Linked DNA regions of Homo sapiens. The protein of the gene in region 1 interacts with the protein of each later gene in a biochemical or structural test. Each region holds a gene or a part of one and is shown on either strand. Other genes may lie near its edges.

Region 1 (7,817 bases):
TTGAAGCCACTCTCAGGCTTGTTTGGGATAGTTATTCCTCTGGATGTGTTTTTTTTTTTCTCTCTCTCTCTCTTCTATAAGGCTTTATTGACATATAGAATGTCAATTCTTTAGGAAAACTACTTTTGGACCAGAACTTAGTTTTTAAGATGAATAAAGAAAACATTATTTCCTATGGCTTGAAGTACTATGAGTTACTATAATTTTTCCCATTACTCTCATGAATGTTATTCTCACCTCAAGAGATTCGAAAGCCGAGCTTTGACTTGAGGACTCAATCTGTGCGATCATTTTGCTTAGGCTTCTGATTTGCTGGGTCAGTTTGATCTCATTGTTCCTCAGCTTCCTCATGTTCTCTTTCTCTTCCTGTTCTAGTAGCTGGAGTTGCAGCTGCTCCTCTTCCTTCAGGAACTGGTGCATTTTCATGTATTCTGACACAACAACCTGTTTACAAGTCTTTGTTTCTTCCTGCCAAAACACACACACACACACACACACACACACACACACACGAGATAAAGTTAGTAAGAGAAATGCCCTTGTCTGTAGATTTTTAATCCTTACAAGTCCTAGAGTTTCTTTCTTTCTTTTTTTTTTTTTTTTTGAGATGGAGTCTCACTCTGTCGCCAGTCTGAAGTGCAGTGGCGCAATCTCGGCTCACTGCAACCTCTGCCTCCTGAGTTCAAATGATTCTCCTGCCTCAGCCTCCTGAGTAGCTGGGACTATAGTCTAGGAGTGTGCCACCACGCCCAGCTAATTTTTGTATTTTTAGTAAAGATGGGGTTTCACCATGTTGGTCAGGATTGTCTCAAGTCTCTTGACCGGGTGACCCACCCTCCTCAGCCTCCCAAAGTGCTGGGATTACAGGTGTGGGCCACCATGCCTGGCCAAGTCCTAGAGTTTCATGGCAACAATTCCTGAAATCCAACATATAATACATTTAATCTGTTGATGCGCTGGGTGTAGAGGTTGATGTTTTCGGAGGTATGTGCGCTATAGATACAATAGTAAACAAAACCAAAATCTCCATTCCCAGGAGGCGGTCGTTCTAGTGGAGAAAACCAAAAATGAGTAAGAAATATGACAAGTAGTGATCAGGACTATGATACAAATAAAACAAAATTAAGAAAAATTATGAAAAATGTGTGTTCATTTATTCAACAAATATTTATTCAATGAAAGTAGGTGTCAGATAACCAAAAAGGAACAGAAACATACATGGCAAATACTCTCACTTAAGAATTCAAAGTCTACGGCCAAGCACGGTGGCTCACACCTGTAATCCCAGCACTTTGGGAGACCGAGACAGGTGGATTACCTGAGGTCGGGAGTTCGAGATCAGCCTGGCTAACATGGTAAAACCCCATCTCCACAAATATACAAAATTAGCTGGGCATGGTGGCACACGTCTGTAATCCCAGCTACTCAGAAGGCTGAGGCAGGAGAATCACTTGAACCCGGGAGGTGGAGGTTGCAGTGAGCCGGGATCGCGCCACTGCACTCCAGCCTGGGCGACAGAGAGAGACTCCATCTCCAAAAAAAAAAAAAAAAAAACAGATTTCAAAGTCTATTGGGAGAATCAGATACATGGTTTTAAAAAATATATAATTTGATATTTAGTCCTTTGCTTTGACTGCTGGAGAGCTCAAATCCAAGTCCGTGACCAACCTTGAGGACTTGTCAGGTATCATTTAAACCACTATTTTGCTTTTATATCTCTGTCTCTTTATTTTTTTTAATTTGCATTTTCCCCTCCATGTTTTTGAGATATTTCTTTTTAAAATCGCTTTCCGTCTCATGTTACATGTCTATAAGTATCACTTGTGTTTTAAATAATTCTACCAGAGCCATCATAGAGGAAGCCACAGCGTTGTCTAGTTATGCAAAGGAGGCTCCTAGAGGGGGCGAATTGCAGCTGAGCCTTGAGACTCCCACGAGGACGCTCAGAAGAAGGCAGCCCAATGCAAGGAAACTGCATATTTTAGAGGTGAGACTGGAAAAATTTGTCTTTTTTTTTTCCTGATATTTCACTAAATTTCCCTTTAGTCCCCCTTATGGGGTCATATACAAGCAGCAAAAGTCAGACAGACACCGACCTGGCACAGTTTCACTCTCTCCTTCTCATGGGTTAGTACAGCCTGAGCTTCCTTTCTCCTTACACGCAAAAGATTCAGGATTTCCTGGAGTTTCTCCTGCAATAGAAACAAACCCTTTCTGGCAAATGAGCAGAGTCCCAGGTCATGAAGGGGCTTTGAAGACCAGTAACTGCGCAGTCCTAGGCCTCTAAAACAAAGGGCAGGCTGGGTGCGGCGCCTCACGCCTGTAATCCCAGCACTTTGGGAGGCCGAGGCAGGCGGATCACCTGAGGTCAGGAGTTCAAGACCAGCCTGGCCAACATGGTGAAACCCCGTCTCTATTAAAAATACAAAAAATTAGCCGGGCGTGGTGGTGGGTGACTGTAGTCCCAGCTACTGGGGAGGCTGAGGCAGGAGAATGGCGTGAACCTGGGAGGCGGAGGTTGCAGTGACTGAGATCGCACTGCTGCACTCCAGCCTGGGCAACAGAGCAAAACTCTGTCTCAAAAACAAAAAAAGGGAAAAAAAAGGGTGTAAACTGGACCCACGCCAGTTTGTGATGTGGTGCTCAGATGGGCCCTCGTGACTGTCCCCCACAGAGGACGTTAGGAAACGTCAGGAAAGCTAACGGAGTTAGCTGCGATGAGTCGTGGGGTTCATGCTGAGCAGCTGTCTTACTCTGTGATGCTCCTCAGCCTCGCTGGAGAGATGCACTCTGTTTGCACCATGGCTCTGGGCTACGAAGGCGCTTCCACCCTGCTCGTCATCGGAGAGCGCCTTGGCAGTGGTGGGCATCCTCCCGTAGCTGCCCTGCTCATCCTCGCTCTGCAGCACCTGGGACCGGAGCTGCCTGGCGATGCTGGCCAGCCTCCCCAGACGCTCGTTTGACTGGAAATGCGGGCCCTCCAAGGTCCTCCAGCACTCAGGACAAGATAAAGGTGTGTTATGTTCCTCCCAGCTCCTGAGGAGACACACCAGACAAAAGCTGTGCCCACACTCGGTGGTCACTGGGCTGCTGAAATAGTCTAAGCAGATGAAACAGGTGAGTTCCTCCCTGAGGTTCTCCATCAGATCTGCTGTAGACATTTTCTCGAGGCTGGATATGCAGCCAGGTTACACCTCTGTTCTGGGATTAGCAAAGCCCTCACTGCCGTCCTACAGTTTTGAGTAACACGCGGGTGACCTGTTCCTATGTTGTTATGACAAGAAACCCTTATCTCTTCTGTGCCTGATTTCACCAGCTGACATACACTGTCCAACACAAAGCCAATTATGACTTAATGTGGAACTCCTGTATACTGGGCTCCTCACCAACCCCAAACTTTGAGACTTATCTCTGTGAAAAGCACACATGCTAGAGGCTGAGGATTCTGGCTTCTAACAGGATTACCATTTTGAGAACTGGTTATTGTACATAAACAGCACTGTGGAACCATGTGAGCATGTGGGTTTTAGGCTGGAAGCTTGGGTGATTTGGTGTAAACCAGTAAAGAGATTTGAGTTTTGATGATCTCTAATAATATCTGAATTGGAAATTTGGTCCAAATCTTTTGGGAACTCCACTAATAAAACCTAGTTGAGAACTGAGAGAAGAAAACTGTAATACATAGTCCTTTTCTCATTAGCCCCTTTTGTTCTGCTTGACCAAAGCCTAAGCTTTTGTTCCTTTATTGGGTACTGTGTACTTTTATTTAATTTTATTCATCCCAACAAAATGAGAGCTCTTCCACTGAAGTATTCCTTGGTGTTAGGCGCACGATGAATTGCCAGAGCTGTTTATTGATCTTCCCTGCACACCCTAGTACTCACCCATCTGCCATCTTGGAAAGCATCTAAAATGACATTCTAATTGGAAGTTGCCTCAAGAGGCTATCCCACTATGGAGCAGATGGAAAGAATTATATTTTAGTATAAATGTAATTTTGCTCACTTATTTTCACCCATTGAAAATTTCCAAACTAGGCCCCTTCAAATCCCTGATTATCAGTTCTTACTGGACAGAAATGAAGTGTGCAGACATTTTTTCGGACATATGAAAAAGTAAATGCCTAGTGTGGAGACTGTGCACAGTGAACTCCGAGATTGGTAACAAATGCCACAAATTCACTGTGTCCCCTGCTCGGGAGTCAGCTCCTGTCCTGGCCTGCCTTCTGCTCACTGCATGCCAGGAAGTTGCACCTCAAAAGCTCTTCCTCAAAGGCCAGCGAGTTTGACCTTCCCACGAACTCATCACGCCATATTTCTGTCTCCGTCCCCTCACTCTCCAGCTTGGCAGCCTTCCACGAGTCGGGTCCATTACTCAGGCTGTTCCGTTCATTGGTTTCTGACTTTCAAGGCTCCAACTGCTACTTCTTTCCCACTTACCTCCAACAGGATGTTGGATGTTTTCTTATCTTGAACTTTGGGAAAAAGAAGTTTTCTGGCTGAGAATGTTTTTTCCTCCACCTTCCTTTCTCCTAGTCAAAACTCACCTTTCTGAAATCATTAATTCAAAATGTTTCAATCCTATACATCCCTTGTAAAGCATACGTGAATTGCTAGGATGAGAATTTAAGCTATGAAAAAATAAGAGCAAAGAGTTATACTACTGTAAAGAGGAAGAGAGGTGGCATCAGGGTGGCATCATGAAACCTCTACCAAGATAGCCTCCAGGATACTAACTTGTCACAGCTTCAGAATATTGCTATGAGTTAGTCTTGTAAGAGTCTTAAAAAAAAAAAGAAAAAAAGTTTGGCCAGGCGCGGTTGCTCACATCTGTAATCCCAGCAGTTTGGGAGGCCGAGGTGGGTGGATCACTTGAGGTCAGGAGTTTAAGACCAGCCTGGCCAACATGGTGAAACTCCGTCTCTACTAAAAATATGAAAATTAGGCCGGGTGCAGTGGTTCATGCCTGTAATCCCAGCACTTTGGGAGGCTGAGGCAGGCAGATCACTTGAGGTCGGGAGTTCGAGACCAGCCTGGCCAACATGGAGAAACTCCGTCTCTACTAAAAATACAAAATTAGCCGGGCATGGTGGCACATGCCTGTAATCCCAGCTAGTCAGGAGGCTGAGACAGAAGAATTGCTTGAACCCAGGAGGTGGAGGTTGCAGTGAGGTGAGATCACGCCATTGCACTCCAGCCTGGGCAACAAAAGCGAAACTCTGTCTCAAAAAAAAAAAAAAAAAAAGTAAAAATAGCTGGGTGTGGTGTTGCACGCCTGTAATCCCAGCTACTTGGGAGGCTGAGGCAGGAGAATCACTTGAACCCAAGAGGTGGAGGTTGCAGTGAGCCAAGATCCCACCACTGCACTCCAGCTTGGGAGACAGAGAAAGATCCCATCTCAAAAAAAAAAAAAAAAAAAAAAAAAGACTACAATAACACTAACTGCCACCACTAGAAAAAGAATTTATGAACTACCATCTCCATTCAGTGTGTTATTTCAACACAACCCCAGGAGGAGTCTTTAACATTTACCAAAATCATTAGAATAAGCCTCACAATACAGTTATAGCACATCACAGAGCCAGTATTCCAATTTGGAATAGGGAGGCTGGCATAGTCTCTGTTCAAGTCACACTGATCTGCTCTATCCCGTTTCCCTCTTCCAGATAATTTTTTTTATTTTATAGGCATCGTAACACAATAACCACGTGTTATTCATTGATGACTACAAGAATTCTTTGCACGTGGCTCGATTTTTCTGTTAATGAGTTATAAATGAATAGAGGAACTATATTATTATGGAATCATAGTCTTATATTTAGCTGGAAGTCAAGAGATCATATAGTCCAACTACCTTCTACAGATGCTGAGGAAAACTGAGGCTAGAATAAATTAAATTCATCTCCTGATACTCACTTACCACATACGCCGGATTAGGACTAGGAAACTGGAGCGCCTACCTCCCAGTCTTTCTCTTTTGTCAACACACTATACTGCATCCACTTGTTGACTTGTGAGTGGGTGAAAATTTCCAGTTATCTCAATAAAATGAACATTGCAGGCCAGGCGCGGTGGCTCACACCTGTAATCCCAGCATTTTGGGAGGCCAAGGCAGGTGGATCACGAGGTCCGGAGATCTAGACCATCCTGGCTAACACGGTGAAACCCCATCTCTACTAAAAAAATACAAAAAATTAGCCGGATGTGGTGGTGGGAACCTGTAGTCCCAGCTACTAGGGAGACTAAGACAGGAGAATGGCGTGAACCCGGGAGGCGGAGCTTGCAGAGAGCCGAGATCGCTCCACTGCACTCCAGCCTGGGAGACAGAGCAAGACTCCATCTCAAAAAAAAAAATGAACATTGTCCAATTGCTGTGAGAAGGAAGTCAGACAGCTGTCATTATGGAGTGATGGTGTGACAGGCATCTGAAATCACTGACCACATTCACTCTTGGGAAGGCAGACTTCCTTACCATCTTTCTCAACATTTTGCTTGGGCTTAATTCATAGATGAAATGCATTCATAGAATAGACCAGCCTTCCCAAAATATATGACCCAATCACACTACCAGACACGGCTTCTGAGATCAACAACTCAAGTAGCTTCTTCTCTGGCCTTTCTCTCCTGAGAGGGTGATGCTAGGAGTACTCCAAGAGGGTCACTGTCACAACTATCACCCAGATGCCATCAGGGTTGGCACATGCAGAAAAAAATGAACTTTATAGATACAGTAAGGGCTTATTTGTTGATGAGGCGGTGGACTAGTTGGGAGCTTATTTGAAAAATACATTGCTTGAAAGCCTAGCTTTAAAAATAAAGTTAGCCAGGCCCAGTGGCTTACCCCAGTAATCCCAGCACTTTGGGAGGCCAAGGCAGGTGGATCACCTGAGGTCAGGAGTTCAAGACCAGCCTGGCCAATATGGTGAAACCCTGTCTCTACAAAAATACAAAAATTAGCCGGGCGTGATGGCGGGTGCCTGTAATCCCAGCTACTCGGCGCTGAGGCACGAGAATCACTTGAACCCAGGAGACGAAGCCAGCAGTGAGACATGATCACCGGTGCACTCCAGCCTGGGCACAGAGCGAGATTAAAAAAATACAATTGACCCTTGAGCAATGCAGGGGTTACAGGTGCTGACCCCTTGCACAGTCAAAAATACACTTTAACTTTCCTAGAACATTAACTACTAATAGTCTACTGTTGACCAAGCCTTATCAATAACAGAAACAGTCAATTAATATATTTTTTTGTTACATGTATTATTTTATTCTTATCAAATAAGCTAGAGAAAAGAAAATGTTATTACGAGAAAATCTATTCACTAAGTGAAAGCGGATCCTCATAAAGGTCTTCACCCTTGTCGTTACCACTTTGAGTAGGCTGAGGAGGAGGAGGTGGGGGTGGGAGGGCTGGTCTCGCTGTCTCAGGGGTGGCAGAGGCCAGATAGGTAGAGGAAGTGGAAGGCTGAGCAGGAGAGGCAGGCATTCTTGGTGTCACTTTTATTGAGAAAAATCCGTGTATAAGTGTCCATGTTGAGGAGTTCAAACCCAGGTTGTTCAAGGGTCCTCTGTATATCTGTCATTTCATGCCAGTCTGGAAAAGATAGGTTACTCAACACACAGTTTAGGGAAAGTCAGGGAGTCATCTGGAAAAATAAATTCAGTTGATCTCTACCCAGCAACTTATACCGAAGTATATTCCAGGTAGATAAATACAGGATATATGTGTGTGTGCGTGGGCAGGGGGGAGTGTGTCTATTTTTTCCCAAGTATGAATTTCTACTCATATGTTTCCTTTTTTATTGCTTTTTTCACCTT
Region 2 (7,943 bases), on another chromosome or scaffold:
CAGCAGGTGGCTGGGGGACTGTGTGCAGCAGTTCGCTATGGCCTGCCTGTGGTGCCCATGTGTTTGTACGGGAGGGTTAGCTTGAGAAGGAATCAGATTATAAAAGGTCTTGAATGTCAAGCCAGAGAGTCCAGACTTTTTCCTAAGGGCAATGAGAAGCCATTGAGGAGTTCTGAGCAGAGTAGTAACATGATCAGTTATGCTTCTCAGAAAGATTGCTCCAGATCTTTCAGAAAGAAGCAGTGTAGGTTGATGAAAGGGAGGGACTGGCACTGGGGAAACAAGGTAGGAGGCAGGTGGCAAGAAATGCAAGAGCGACAGGACAGAGGGGTTAGGGAGAGGGATTAGGAAGAGATTAAAGATGTGGAATCAGCTGGAACAGTGGCTCATGCCTGTAATCGCAGAGCCTTGGAAGGCTGAGGCAGAAGGATCTCTTGAGGTCTGGAGTTTGAGACAAGCCTGAGCAACATAGTAAGACCCTGTATCTACAAAAAAAATTAAAAATTACCTGGGCAGGCTGGGCATGGTGGCTCATGCCTGTAATCCCAGCACTTCAGGAGGCTGAGGCAGGCAGATCACTTGAGCCTAGGAGTTTGAAACCAGCCTGGGCAATATGGCAAGACCTCATCTCTATAAAAAAAATACAAAAATTAGCCAGGCGTGGTGGCTCATGCCTATAATCCCAGCTACTGGAGAGGCTGAGACAGGAGAATCGCTTGAGCTCAGGAAGTTGAGGCTGCAGTGAGCTGTGATCGTGCCACTGCACTCCAGCCTGGGTGACAAGAGCAAGACCCTGCCTCTAAAAAACAAGCAAACAAACAAAATGTGGAATCACCAGGATTTAGTGACCAAATGCTAGGATATAGGACATTGGGAGGGAAGGATTCGAGATAATGGCCAAGGTTTGGGTTTGGTGGCTGGGTAGATAATGCTGTCATTCACAAGGATAGGGAAGAGGGAATGAGGAATAGCTTTTGGGGGAAGATCATAAATTCAGTTTTAGACAAACTGACTTTGAAGTACTTATAAAGCAGCTGGATAAAGGTCAGGGTTAGAGAGAGAGACCTGAAAGTTACCAGAATATAGGGAAGTGATAGCTAAAGCCCTAGAAGTAAACACCCAGGGAGAGCAGGGCCAAGGACAGAGCCATAGGGACACCATGGTTAAAGGGAGATGTGCAAAGAAGGCTCAGAGCATCAGTGGGCTCAGGCCAGGGAACGCAAGCTCTCTAGGCCGCCATTCTACACACAGAAAACTCGGTGCAAGGTTTACATATACCTTTTTAAAGTAACATTTAAAATTACTTCCTTTAATATAAAAGAAACACACAAGACACAAAGAAAGCCCAATAAAGCTGTGAGTCCCAGTTTGGTAGCTGAGGAGGAGTCTAAGAAAACAAGCCATTCCTCAGTATCCCTGGGAAAGAAGGGGTGAGAGGACACAGATATCACCAGGCCCTGGGTGACTGCATTGCTGGGGCCATGCAGGGCCTAGCTCTCCACCAAGGGAAAGTGCTGATTTTCCTTGTCATGGTCCTGGCCTTGCTCCCATGCTCGTCCTCCAGTTTTCAGAAGTCGTCCAGTTCCAAGAATGGCTCCTTCCTTTAGTTCACTAACATTTTCACTTAGGGGTGAAGGCCGCTTACCCTGAAAACGGCAGTGTATGAGTTGGGGGGAGTTGCTGTTCAGAAGAGGGAAGATCTGGGTAAAAGGGTCTCCCACCCTCTACGTTGGATATCCTAGTAACAGCTTGCACTTTCTCTTCCTTTACCTGTCGTAGTGTCAGGGTGCCAGGGGAGTTGTCATCCTGCAGGATGGTGAGGGGGGATCTCCCTAGTACCTTGCTGCTGTTTGGTTTCCATCTATTGCGCATAGAACCTGGGGTGGGTAAGGCGTTAAAGCAAGGACCCAAAACTAGGACTTACAGTTTATTCCTCCCACACTCACCCATGGACCTTATCCCAAAACATTATCCTAGTTTATCTTCCCTGCATCTTGCCTTAGATTCTGTACCTGAAGATCTGGGAGTCTCAGGGTCCCTTGAGGGCTTGTCGGAGCTCTGGCTGGCCACAGGGGTTTCTGTGGGCTGTCTTGCTTCCTCCTTGGAAAACACCTGTTTGGAGGGGAACTCAGTCTGGTTCCAAGGTGGCATCTGTTCCTCAACAGATAACTGGGTACCCAGAGGCAAGTCCAATTCAGAAGATAAAGGTGCCTCTGGGGGCAGAACAGGCTCTGGGGGAAGATTTGATTTAGAGTCTTCAGTTTCAAATACTTCACTCAGCTGTTTCACCAGTGGGCTTGGGGGGTCTAGAGGAAGAAAGTGAAGTGAACAGTGACCTTCTGATACACAACATTCAGCAAGGAGCAAAACATACAGAAACCCAGGACTCATGCCCAGGAGGGTGAGCAAGTGGGAAGAGAGAAATCAAGGAAATCAAGGTGAAAGGGAGCAATTTTTTTTTTTTTTGAGATGGGGCTTGCTCTGTCCCCCAGGCTGGAGTGCAGTGGCGTGATCACAGTTCACTGCAGCCTTGACCTTGTGGGCTCAAGCAATCCTCCCACTTCAGCCTCCTGAGTAGCTGGGATCACAGGCCCATGCCACCGTGCTTTTGTGTGTGTGTGTGTGTGTTATGTGTGTGTATTTTTTCTAGAGATGGGGTTTTGCCATGTTGCCTAGGCTGGTCTTGAACTCCTGGGCTCAAGCGATCTGACCACCCCGGCCTTCCAACGTGCTGGGATTACAGGCATGAGCCACCGCACCCAGGCTGGGAACAAAATATTGAGATAAGAGTGAGATGGGTCCGAAGCAGGAGGATAGAGGCCCCTTTAAGGAACCCTGAGAGAATGGCTTCATGGACCCTACCCAAGAATAATAGATGACAGCTTCATCAGCATTCCCTGGGCCCAACGCTTACCTCCACTGCTGGTCTTCATAGGTGTCCGTGCAATACCAAGAGTAGGAGAGCGGGGATCTGAGTCCTGGGCATGTTTAAGACCCTCCAGTTGCTCCCCTGCTGGTAGGCCTGGCTGTGGAGAGCTCTCCACCTGTCAAGACCATAGGCTAGAACAAGTCTGGGCCCTGACTCTTCTCTCCTCTCCTCCCCATATTCCAGGAAGGAATTGCCAAGGCCCTCAGATATCCAGCCTACCCCACACAGATTGAGATTGCAGAAAATAAGGCTAGGATAAGGGTGGGGTCATGACGGCTCTCTCAAAATCAGGTTAGGAAGAGACCCAAGAATTCAGACATTCTCTGCCTTTCCCACGCTGGCCCAGAGTACCTGGATGGGAGTGCGCAGGATGCCAGCACTAGGTGAACGGGGGTCCGCCACTCGAGCCAGATGCTTGTTGTGCGGCGGAGGCCGCGCTGGTGTGACTGGGACGCTCTTGGCTGAGCCCATCTCAACCAGGAGTTGCAGGGTGGGGGCAAGGGCCAGCCCGGGACGAGGAGGGAATGCCTGTGAGAAGTGACTCAGGTCTCAGCCCTTATCTCTTCCACGTCGGACCTTCAACCCTAAACCACCCTGTCTTCCCAGTTTCCAGTGAAGAAACTTCCTGGCGAGGGACCAGAGGCCTCTGCGGAGTTAATGACTGCTGCAGCTGACAAAATGGCTCGTTCTGGGCCTGCTGAGCCCTCTAACTTATTTATTAAATTATTCAAATCACTTACCGGGCCCCAATTCCACCTCTGGATGCACAACAGCTCGTGGCTCAACTCCCGAAGTTACCAGTTTCAAACTTCCCGCCACGCCCCCTGCCCTGACCCTATTGGCTGAGCCGACGTAGTTCCCATAGGCCCTCCACGTAAGACCCGCCTCGAGCCAAAGGAAGCTGTTGGTCTGGGAGAACGTCTATCATGGTGACTGTAGGTGTCAATGGACTGATGCTAGGCTTGCCCAGGGGTGACGCCTCCTTGATAAGGGTACTTCTGTTCAGTATCGGCCTGCGAGCCGTCCGTGGCAGGCTGAGGAGTGCCAGTCTTCGCTTTCGAGACGTCTAGTCTCAAGAACGAATTATTAAACAAAATAGAATCATGAGTGATTACACTATTATGCGCACATCCAGCTGGAGTTGTGATGGTTTTCCTGAGGCGAGCGATAGTAGCTTTATTGGTTGACAGCTGTATCAGTCACTCGACACAACCCCCTCAAGCTCCGCCTCACTGGATACCCCCTTTACAAATACCAAGACAACTGTCCCTCGACTTTCCGACCGGACAGGTCCCCAGGAAACTTTCTGGAATTGAGAGGCCTAAAACAACCGTCAGTTCCTGCTCTTCAATAGAAGGCACGCGAATGGACTCTAAGGGTCCCGGAGCCGGAGCAGCTGCGGAGCCGCAGCAGCTGCAACCCCGAAGCCCACCTAGCTGCTCTACGTGCGCTCCCGCCCTGGAGGAGTGGGATTGGTTCTTTCAACCATCAATTGCCTTAGGAGCGCTTCTCATTGGCGTCAGTCAAGCGCGGGGCAGGGGCGGAGCACCGGCAGGCAGGCTCCGTCCAACTGCCATTCTCGCGCGTCGTCTCCGCGGCGCATGCCCCTAACGAGTGGCGCTCATTGGACGGGAGGGGCAGGGGAGGGGACTGGGAACGGTGGGAGCCGCCGTGTGTGGAGAAGCTGCTGCCGGTGTCATGGCGGAGCTGAGTGAGGAGGCGCTGCTGTCAGTATTACCGACGATCCGGGTCCCTAAGGCTGGAGACCGGGTCCACAAAGACGAGTGCGCCTTCTCCTTCGACACGCCGGTAAGCCCATTCCCCACGCCCGCAACGAGCACGACTTCCTTCCATCGCCCTGGTCATTCCGCTGGGGCCTGCAAGGCTTGGGCTACCGCCTCCCTGCGATGCACCATGGGACTTGTAGTCTCCCACGCTCCACTCTGCCGTTGCCTTTCATTAACTGCGGCTGTCGTGTGACTACCGTCCCCGGAAGCCGCCGCGCTCACCTCTCCGGCTCCCCGCTTCGTGGAGCACTGTGGGCATTGTAGTCACTCACTGCCTTCGTTGCCGTTCTAAGCTAGGGGCGCAGCCCGACCGTCGGACTACATCCCCCAAGTGGACCCTTGAGAAAACCTGGCAGTCGGCCTTGTCTGCCGCGCACGGCTCTCCGGGTTTTGTAGTCTCGTGTAGGAGTGATGGGGACGACTCCCCACTGTTCTCGGCCGGGGTTGGAGTTGGGGGGTGGGGACCGCAGTTCCTAGGCGGTTAATAGTCTGGGAGTGGACTCTCAAGAAGTCCGATTCTGAGAAAGGCAGAGAGCCTCCACCCCGTGGTTAAAACAGACAGGGGGCGGGGAGGGGAGGAAAGAGGAGAGGAAAGCTCTAGTCGTTTCTCCTTTGAAGTGAGCAATGGCCGCAGCCCCCACCCTTCCCCCCGCCCCCCAGCCTATCACAGACAGCTGAGATAACCCCTTTTAAAGTATTCCTAGAGAGGTGGTTTCTTTCTCGGAGGATGCTAAGGCCTCTTTCCCATCCCGCTCCCACTCTTGGCTAGTTACACAAAGCCACCTCCCACACCATGCTTCACGTTTTGCAGGCTCCACCTGGTACCTCCCTTCCTGCAGTTCTGCCTTCCCTATGTCACCCTCAAGCGGAGGCCCTTTGGGGCCTGAACTGAGAAGGCAGCAGCTTGGTTGGGATCCGCCCCCCTCACCACCCCTCCCCTCAAGCTGCTGTGCCCTGCCCAGTGTATTCTGCCAGAACCAGCTCATGGCCTGAAAACTGCAAGTCAGAGTGGAAAGCCTTCATTACTGCATCACCAGTACTGAGTAGAACAGCATGATGTGAGGCCCAGTTCAGGATCATCACTGTGATTTGTGGTTTGCTTGGTTTGCTAGGCTTTGATCTGGGCCTCAGACAATGTGCTGCTTCTCTGAAGTCTGGCTTTGGCAGAGGTAAAAGAGCACTGCGCGGAGCAGAGCTCCGGGGTTCCCAATCCTTGGTGAAATCAGCATCTTTAATTTCCAACAGAGGAGTTTAATCACTTCAGAGCTCCCACATTCTTCCCAGGAGGGAAAGGTTTTTCTTAAATTACCAGCAGGTGGTAGAAGTCAGTGGGTCCCTCTTTACACTTTTATTCACTCCTGTCTCTCTCCTTAGTAACTGCTTTGAATAATCCAAAAAGGGTTTTTGTAATCTTCTGAAACTTTCCCTTTTTCACCCCAAGTCAAGAGATTTTCAGTGTGCCCTAGTTCTTTGCTAACCAACTTCCAGCATATTTGGTTACCTTCAAATTGGGCTCATGGTAGAAAGAGCTTAGTTGACCTCCCCGGTGAGAAATGCTCTATTTGTTCATGAACTTGCAGTACACACTGTTCCTAGGAAGTGGTACAGAGCAATCTATGGGACCAAGAACTACCTTAGACAGTGCACTATTTTTCATATCACAGCAGAGAAATGTTCAAGGCCACTGAGACTTTTATTCCTGGAAGAGGATGTCTGTTGTTGCTCAAAGCCTTGGATCTGAGGGAAGACCCTTATTGTCTCCAATTTCCTCCTCCACCTTCTCCATCACTCTTTACAAAGGCACTGGAAAACTTGGTCAGCTTTGGGGGAAGCCCATCCTCCCTTCTCAGCTGTGTTTCTGGGTGGACACCCGTCTGTCCCTGTTTTCACGGGTTATGTGTGTTCTAGCTATCTCAGCAAGTGTTGCGAGATTGTTGTCAGAACGGGATGGCTTTGAGATTGGTGATTTGTTGGGACTTCAGCAGGGATCTTATTGGTCGGAGGGGAGGCAGAGGAGAGAGGGTGGTGGCTATGGAATGCTGGACTTCATGACCCTGCCAGACTGGGTGCATGTTTAGCTGTGAGTCCCTAACAAGTCATTGTTCCCCTGGAAGCCACACTTCAGCAGGAGAGGAGGGAGAAGACTCACAGTGTGGACCAGGGTTCGACTACCTGGTAGAATGTGGTAAAAGAAAGGTCTTTTTCGCTGGATGTTTAGTCTCACCGCTGTAATCCCAGCACTTTGGGAGGCCAAGGTGGAAGGATTGTTTGAGGCCACACAAGTTAAAGACCAGCCTAAGCAACATAGCGAGACCCCACCTCTAAAAAAAAAAAAAAAAAAAATCTAGGCATGGTGGCATGTGCCTGTAGTCCCAGCTCCTTTGGAGACTGAGGCAGAAGGATCACTTGAGCCGGGGAGGTTGAGGCTGCAGTGAGCTATGATCGTGCCACTGCACTCCAGCCTGGGTGACAGAGTGCAGTGTCTCTAAAATAAAATTTTTTTTTTTTTTAAAGGAAAGGTAATTTTGCTTGCTGGCACACTCGGGTCAGATATACTGTTCAAGTGCTGGAATCTCTGCTCCTCTGGTCTGGAAGGTTTTCTGAATCATGGAGATGAGATAGGGTTTGTCTTAGGTGTCCCCTGGTTTGGGTTCAGTGTCTCACATGAAAGTCTTTCCTCTCCCACGAAGGGACCCTTTTTCCCTTTGAATGTAATCTCCAGCACTGGAAGTCCACAGTATTTGATCCCCATTTACTTTCTGGATCTGTTAGCCCCAGGATAGAGGTGAAGGAAGTCCTCTGTGATTGATTAAAGAGCTCCAAAGCCCAAGAAGGAGCAGGTGGAAAGATAAATGGTGACTGGTGTTGCTGTTGAATGGCGACGATGAGCTGGTGTTCCTCAGCCCCCTGATGTCCTTGTTGGTTGTTATCAAAGTCATGGGAGGAAATGGGGAGAATCTTAGCTATGTCCCAGGTCCTAAAAGGCTAAATAACTTGCCAAGGGCCACACAGTGTTAGAGAACAGAACATTTCTTCTGGAACCCAGCAGTTTCTGACTCCAGGTTTTGGTTTCCTCACCTGACCAGGCTTCATAACATCCTCGTGTTTTCACCCTTACCTCTTGTCCCACAGGAGTCTGAGGGGGGCCTCTACATCTGTATGAACACGTTTCTGGGCTTTGGGAAACAGTATGTGGAGAGACATTTCAATAAGACCGGCCAGCGAGT

The links. The genes of interacting proteins can lie anywhere in the genome.
Region 2: the proteins of TRIML1 (region 1) and USP5 form a complex in vitro, tested with the Homo sapiens proteins (one study listed by BioGRID).

What each region holds. Positions count from the first base shown.
Region 1 is NC_000004.12:188,134,903-188,142,719, reverse strand, and holds the start of TRIML1 (probable E3 ubiquitin-protein ligase TRIML1), read right to left. Parts: upstream 3,280-7,817; 5' UTR 3,162-3,279; coding exon 2,754-3,161; intron 2,193-2,753; coding exon 2,097-2,192; intron 469-2,096; coding exon 238-468; intron 1-237.
Region 2 is NC_000012.12:6,847,553-6,855,495, forward strand, and holds the start of USP5 (ubiquitin carboxyl-terminal hydrolase 5), read left to right. Parts: upstream 1-4,597; 5' UTR 4,598-4,627; coding exon 4,628-4,738; intron 4,739-7,802; exon of another isoform or gene 7,803-7,848; coding exon 7,849-7,943. Other genes in the region: CDCA3 (cell division cycle-associated protein 3), read right to left, coding at 1,491-1,646, 1,771-1,877, 2,013-2,306, 2,915-3,044, 3,281-3,400. UniProt on the Homo sapiens protein: Deubiquitinating enzyme that participates in a wide range of cellular processes by specifically cleaving isopeptide bonds between ubiquitin and substrate proteins or ubiquitin itself.